Homo sapiens: one gene and its partner. The protein of the gene in region 1 interacts with the protein of each later gene in a biochemical or structural test. Each region holds a gene or a part of one and is shown on either strand. Other genes may lie near its edges.

What was found.
Region 2: the proteins of CDON (region 1) and DHH are reported together in a solved structure, tested with the Homo sapiens proteins (one study listed by IntAct).

Annotation. Positions count from the first base shown.
Region 1 is NC_000011.10:126,007,206-126,011,120, forward strand, and holds part of CDON (cell adhesion molecule-related/down-regulated by oncogenes isoform 2 precursor), read right to left. Parts: intron 3,490-3,915; coding exon 3,136-3,489; intron 1-3,135. UniProt on the Homo sapiens protein: Component of a cell-surface receptor complex that mediates cell-cell interactions between muscle precursor cells. Promotes differentiation of myogenic cells.
Region 2 is NC_000012.12:49,088,165-49,092,079, reverse strand, and holds part of DHH (desert hedgehog protein preproprotein), read left to right. Parts: exon of another isoform or gene 1-589; intron 590-690; coding exon 691-952; intron 953-1,595; coding exon 1,596-2,221; 3' UTR 2,222-3,915.

The DNA of each region.
Region 1 (3,915 bases):
AAAAGATGGGTGTGTTTTTGGGAGAAGGGCTGCACTGCAGTAGAGAACCAACAGAAAACAGGACTGACAGTGTAAGGTTAGTTCTCTGTTAGTTTAAAAGAGAGAAAGGGTGTCCCAGAAGCATCCTCCATCAGAGAAAACAAGAAGCTAGTGAGGAAATAATGTAGAAGAAAACTAATTAAGTTCACTGAGACAACTTCAAAATATTGCTCCTGGAACAGCAGTGTTTATCTAGTGAGTCAGACTGCGGACTGATGTTCAGGGTGTGATCTGGTGCCTGCTAATGCAGACAGAAGGACTCGGCAAGTGGAGATAATTAACTGTGGCTTGAGGTAGTGGAGAAGGACCTTTTTATCATTAGAAGTTTAGTGGATCCTCCGGGCAGTTTTCCACTGGGAAGTGGGATCTGGCTGTAAAAGAGTTTAAATGCCACATGCCTCATACAGAAGCATGAGAAAAACGTTAATGCTGCAGCTTCTCCACTGTCTGAGTATCAAAATTCCATTTCTGTAAGACTTAAGATGCAATGAGACCTCTCCAGAACTTTTATTAAAAGGGGGATTCAATTAACTTTCTTCTTCTGTTTCAATGATATAATCTGGGCACTTGGGAGATACACTCAATACAACTGAAAAGACCTTACCAGTACTTCCCCGGTGTTTTTGCATGTATTATCTCAACTTATCTTCAGAACTCTATGAAATGGGTAGAACAGGCATCTAGCATCTTTTAAGGTAGAATGTTTTTTGAATCGGAAAAGAGATTGATGCAACTACGGCAATGTAAATAAATTTAATGACTCTAAGTGGAAACTAATTAAACAGGGAGGGAGTACAACCATATCTGTCAAAGATGCTCCCACTGTGACCACTGCTGCCAGCAACTCACAACCCAAACTATTTAGGAAACCCGCACCAACTCTCATTATAGTTTTAAAGAGTACCACACACTCTACAAATATTTGTACATCCAGGACCTCAAAAACCCAAAGTCTCTGGAAAAAACAAAAGGCTGGGGAGAGAGTTATCTCTCTCTCTAACCTAGCTTGCTCTCCCCTTTACAGTACAGTAGTCAAATGACTTGTCAGGATGCTAGAATTTCATAAGGCTCAGATTCCTATGCAAAGAAGTGAGTTGTCATGTATTGTTTTGAGTTTTAATAAACTCGGTTGGATCTTAATAATTATACTAGAAAATTAAAAAAAGACAACGTAGGACCTCTTTGGTAGAATACAGCTGATGGGGTTACCATACATAAAAGTAGTATTTATCGAGACATAAAATCCTGGAGCACAGGGGAATCTTAAAGATCTTCTAAAGTTAGTTCACATAACTTCAAAGGGCTTCCGATTTCTCATATTTAAGGTGAGGAAGTTCGACAAAATATCTAGTTTCATCAGCCATAAAACTATGACATCTGTCTCTCTACACCCTGTATTCACATAATCGCTTCAGCTAAATTCTACCCAAGGAGCTCCTGCAACTACACCTGTCATGCAGTTAACAATTTCGAGCAGAGCCACTCTTATTTTTGCCTAGAGGAATAGAAATATAAACACACACGCACATTCATTTATAGGTGCAAATTTATGTAACACTGAACTACTTTCTTCATTTAAGGATTCTTAATGTTTCTAAAATCAGTAACTATTTCTTCCTTCCCTTAACACTGCCACAAGAGATCACTGTAATTTAATAATAATTAGACAGTAACAATCATAACTTTATACTTAGTATCAATGGAGGGCTTTCTATTGCCAGACACCATTCTAAGCACTTACTACGCATTAACTCCTTGGATTCTCACATCAACCCTATGAGTGGGGCACCTTCACTATACCTGTTACACAGATGAGGAAACAGAACAGAGAAGTGCAGTGATTTGCCCTTGGGTTACAAAGCTGCTAAGTGGCAGAGCCAGGATTCTGACACAGCCCACGTGCTCAGCCTCCACATCTCTCCCACCTCTAACATGCACAAGAGGATAAGGGGAAGTCCCTGGTCTCCACCACTTCTCCTCCGCCTCCAGCTTCATTCAGAGCAAGGGCGTCCTTGTTTGCACGTGAAGGGAAATCGTATGTGCACATACGAACTCTTTTTTATTTCAACCATCACTCCTCTGCCAAGGACCCCCCGTTGACCACTGCTCTGGCTAAGGGTGCCCACACACTGGTCGTGTGGTCCAGACTGTGGCGGATGGGCCAGGGGAGAGGAACTGTGGGGACCAGACTGTGAACTCACTGAAGCAGGAAATGCTGGAGCCCCAGACCTGTCTAGAAGGAGGAATGTGGGCTCTGAGCTCAGCATAAGCACTGCTCCTCGACCCTATGGGCTCTTTAACCTGTGGGACCATGGCCCCAGGCAGAAGAGAGCCACGCTAAGCCCCTTAAAGCAGAGGCCAGGGTCAGAGACCTCAGTTACCCAAAACTAAAGGCAGTACTGCCTTTGATGTTGGGCCTCTCACAAGACAAATAAGATGACAATCTACACCCAACTGACTAGCTGTTGGGGAAAGCTGCCCTAAATGCCTACTGATGGAAGGTCTGAATTTGAATTAAGTCAAGTTTGAGTCCATTTCCATGAATATTAATAGTCTATATACCAGTACATCAAAAATCATATATAGTTTTTAAGTCATCATCACAAAAAATCAGTAAAATATGAAGAATTAATATTATACATCCCATTAGAAAATAACTTTGGATAAGACACAGGGAATATATACATACAGGTATTACTTAATAGTACCACAACTCTACATTCTCAATGAAGGCCAGTCCTTTAGACCCAATACTGTAGTTATCAAGGGCATAAAAAATGTCTGCAATATCATTTTCGGTAGCTTAGAAAACCAAAAGCATTCATCTCAAAGACAGGTTATATTCTGGGCCTGCTCCCAAATGAGAGCTTTCTGTATTGCACCTACAATCTTAACAAACACATCAGAAACAGAGACCAAAATTCATGTGATTCACATAAAGTGAAATACCAAGAAATACAGTTCTACATTTCACTGTCATCAGGAAAAAATATAGAGAGATTGCTGGATTCATTAAAATAACATATTTCAAATCACTTTATCTTCTATTATAAAAGGAAATTACTCAACTAAAAATAAATAATAATGGCAACTCACCAACCATGAGAGATGCTTCTGCCTGTGTGGTACCATGTTCATTTGCAGCTTCGCAGATGTATTTCCCCGCATGTTCCTGAGTCACAGCCTGAATATGGAGAGAGCTTGCACCAGCTTGGGACAGGACGAAGTACACAGGCTCCAGGTTCAAGCCCTCAGGTCTTGATAACTGTGATTTTCGGGATTTCGATCTCAGGACTTGAGATGGATGGCTGGTTATCAATCCATGGCTGTCATACCAACGAATGACCGGAACCGGCAGCCCACTGGCATTGCAGGACAGAGTAACAAAGTCTCCGTCTGCAACCTTTGCACTTACTGGTGCCGTAATTATAACTGGCTTGAATCCACCGTCTATTAAAAAAGTAATTCACATATGAAAAATGAAGAACATTGTAGTACCTACGATGCAAAACAACTTCATCCTATCACGTAAATGTGGGAGTAATGATTAAAACCAAGATAGCTACCTCCTTATTAGTTCCCTTCTCAACTTTCACCAAGTAAGACTGTCAATAAATGGTAGAGTTGTTTCATAGCTGTGGGCTCCTAAACATTTCCTACGTAAATTTCCTGTCCTTCAGAAAGAAAGGAATATATATAAAGAAATCTTTTGAGAGTTTTCTGAAGGTACACTACACATATCTGACCACTGCAAATATAGAACATATAAGGTTGAAACCTCAGACCTTAACAGGAAAAATGTGTAAATAAGTATAAAAGTAGATAATTTTCCTTCAAGAAAATGGTCAATTTTGTGGGGTAGGGTGGGAAGGGAGG
Region 2 (3,915 bases), on another chromosome or scaffold:
AGTCCGCTTCTCCCAGCGCGTTCCCGGCCTGGGCTCAGGATTCTCGCTCGGTTAAGTCATCCCGGATAATGGCCATTGTACTTCGCGCAACCCCCGCCACCCCAATCCTTTTTCCAGCAGCCTTGATCCCGCACAGCTCCTCTTGGGCACCTCTCTGGGGGGCACCCAGAGCACGAAGGGGTTAATGCTAAGGGCCCAAAGGAGGAGGAGGAAGGAAGGAAGGAAGCGATGCCCGGTGCCAGGGAAGGCAATGAAACAAAAGATGAATCAGGCGGAGGGAGGGGAGCCGGTGCCTGGGGCGGGGGCCAGGCTCAAACAGGGGCTCTCCGGGAGCAACCAGGCCCTCCCTGACCACGCTTCCATTCGCCCTCCTAACTCTGTCCTTCTCCCAGGTTGAGCCGCTGTCCCTGAACCAATAGGGGTGAGGGACGGGCATTAAAAATGGGGAAGGAGCTAGGTATGGGCACCCCCTCTCAACCTCAGAGGTGAGCCCACAGTTCTCCAACGACGTCCTGGGAACAGAGTGCAGATTGGTGACTACCATCGACTCAGATTCTCATTTCTCCAGGACACTCAAAAGCTGGGAGGGGTAAGAGTAGGGCCGGAATAACAAAGAATCAACCCTCCTATCCAGGTCCCTTTTGCCCCAAGGGTGGTGGTGGGGAGACTGACTCCTTTATTCCCCGCCAGCGTTGTAAGGAGCGGGTGAACGCTTTGGCCATTGCCGTGATGAACATGTGGCCCGGAGTGCGCCTACGAGTGACTGAGGGCTGGGACGAGGACGGCCACCACGCTCAGGATTCACTCCACTACGAAGGCCGTGCTTTGGACATCACTACGTCTGACCGCGACCGCAACAAGTATGGGTTGCTGGCGCGCCTCGCAGTGGAAGCCGGCTTCGACTGGGTCTACTACGAGTCCCGCAACCACGTCCACGTGTCGGTCAAAGCTGGTACAGTAGGAGGAGGGTGGTAAAATCCGCCCAAAGGGGGCTCCCTCCGGGAAACTGAGTCTGCAGTAGTACTGTTGCCACCCTAGGGGAGACCAAGCGGGCTTTAGTGTTGAAAACCACCCGTCCAGGCCGAGGCGGTGCCTCACGCCTCTAATCCCAGCACTTTGGGAGGCCAAGGAGGGCGGATCACTTGAGGTCAGGAGTTCGAGATCAGCCTAGCCAACATGGTGAAATCCCGTCTCTATTATAAATACGAAAATTAGTTGGGCGTGGTGGTGTATGCCTGTAATCCCGGCTACTCGTGAGGCTGAGGCACGAGAATCACTTGAACCCGGGAGGTAGAAGTTGCAGTGAGCCGAGATGGTGCCACTGCACTCCATCTACTGGGCGACAGAGCGAGATTCTATCTCAAAATACATACATACATACATACATACATACATACATACATACATACATAGAAAAGAGAAGAAAAAGGAAAAGAAAAGAAAGAAAAACCGCCCTTCCTTTTCTGCCCAGGTTGGGGCCAGTCAGATTAACGGAAAATTGTGTTGTCCATGACTGGCGATATCTGCGCTGGCCTTGAGAATCGTTCTGGAACCGCTGGTCTTGATTCAATCCTCCCTGTGGTTGTTCCCTGCAGATAACTCACTGGCGGTCCGGGCGGGCGGCTGCTTTCCGGGAAATGCAACTGTGCGCCTGTGGAGCGGCGAGCGGAAAGGGCTGCGGGAACTGCACCGCGGAGACTGGGTTTTGGCGGCCGATGCGTCAGGCCGGGTGGTGCCCACGCCGGTGCTGCTCTTCCTGGACCGGGACTTGCAGCGCCGGGCTTCATTTGTGGCTGTGGAGACCGAGTGGCCTCCACGCAAACTGTTGCTCACGCCCTGGCACCTGGTGTTTGCCGCTCGAGGGCCGGCGCCCGCGCCAGGCGACTTTGCACCGGTGTTCGCGCGCCGGCTACGCGCTGGGGACTCGGTGCTGGCGCCCGGCGGGGATGCGCTTCGGCCAGCGCGCGTGGCCCGTGTGGCGCGGGAGGAAGCCGTGGGCGTGTTCGCGCCGCTCACCGCGCACGGGACGCTGCTGGTGAACGATGTCCTGGCCTCTTGCTACGCGGTTCTGGAGAGTCACCAGTGGGCGCACCGCGCTTTTGCCCCCTTGAGACTGCTGCACGCGCTAGGGGCGCTGCTCCCCGGCGGGGCCGTCCAGCCGACTGGCATGCATTGGTACTCTCGGCTCCTCTACCGCTTAGCGGAGGAGCTACTGGGCTGAGCGTCCCAGGCATAGAAACCTCGAAGCGCCCGAGGAAACGAGGGCCTGCTGGCTGAGATATGGGGCTGTGGGCAGCAGACGATGCCGACTGGAAGGGAGGGAGAGGGAGGGGGAGGGAGAAAATGGGGCTATGCCTGGCTTAGGGGCAACCTCGTACTGAGAGGAGGTGATACCGGGTCCTAGGTAGGTAGGGCTGATGGTGCGCACTCCTTAAAGAGGACTATTTAGCCTCTCCCCCAGTGCTTCAGCCCCACCCGATAATTTTATTTTATTTCTTATTTATAAATTGTAATATAATGATTCCCTTGCCCAGCTTGCCAAGGTGAGGGGCTGGGGCATGGCATTAACACTGTCTGACACAGCCAGCCAGTCTGACATCTGACGTTTTCCTGCAAGGTGGGCTAATAAAGGGAAGGCTTTCAGGAGCTTACTGGAAAACACTTCCATTCAGAGGGTGATTCACCTCCAGAGAGGGGGATAAAGGTGGCCAACCTGAGTTAACAGCTTACTTCCGGCTCCCCCTCCTTCCTCAGCAGGGTCTTTGGGACCCTTTTCCTCCCTTCAGAAGGGGCATCCCAACCCATAAGCAACAGAGCCCACAAGAGTCGTACCCTTTTCCAGGCTGCTGTTTCCGTCTCCCATCCAGAGAGGACCAGCATTTCGCTCCTGCGGCTGAAGGGTCCAGGGTTGTCCCAGGTGGGAAAGACTGTGCACACCTCTTCTCTGTTTATAGGGGCTCCAGCAGGGGCTCAGGCCCCTATGAGTACTGATACTCAAAGCATCTAGTCCCCTATTGTTAGCCAGTAGTCCTGGTCCCCATCCTACCTTGGTGGCAGGGCCTGGATGGGGTGGATGTTTTTTCTGATATGCCACTGGGCCAACTGATGATCCATGGGAAACCTGGGTAATAATTTGCAATCGTCGCATAGTCATGGCCTGAAAAAGGAAGGGGGGCACAGTAAGAGGCTGGAATATTTCCTTACTGAAGGGCTGCTCAGAGAGAGAGAATGGATTCAGCCTGGGTGTATGTGGGGGAAGTAGATTCCCTAAACAAGGGCATATCAGCATTACAACCCGAGCTCCCCTCCTGATCGCTGGCCCTGATTGTTGTTTCTACTGGCTTGGTCTTCAGCGCCTCCTCCTCCCTCTCCCATTATCACCAGCTCTACTTCCCTAGCCTGGGTGTTTTTGGAACCTTTAGGTTCCAACGCAGTAGACACCTGGAATCCAGGCAGGCAGGTGCCCCTGAGTTAGGAATGGAAGCTCTGGAGGAAGCTGGGCTGCTCCAGAAGGGAAGTGTCTTGGGTGGAGGTGAGGCGGGGAGGAGGAAATAGTCGGGGGTTGTTGGTACCACCCGGAGCTCGCCCTTGCCAGTAGCCGCTGTGCGCTCCCATCGCACAGGGTCCCTGCTATACACCGCCCTCTGGTGGCCTTCAAGAGAATTCTAGGCCTATGCATATGGTTCTCTGAAACGGAAGGCAAGCGGTCTCAGACATGGAAGGGTGTACTGGACCTGCGCAAAGGAGCCCGCTCCCAGGAGGGAGAGATGATGGGTGGGCCTTGTTAAGCTGCCAGCGCTGAGTCACACATATCAGGAGCTGTCAAGGAGTCCACCTGCTTCTCCTTGGGCAAGTCGTTCCAAACCATGGCACTTTTACATCACTCCTGCCTAGTTTAGCTCTGTGGTTCCTGGA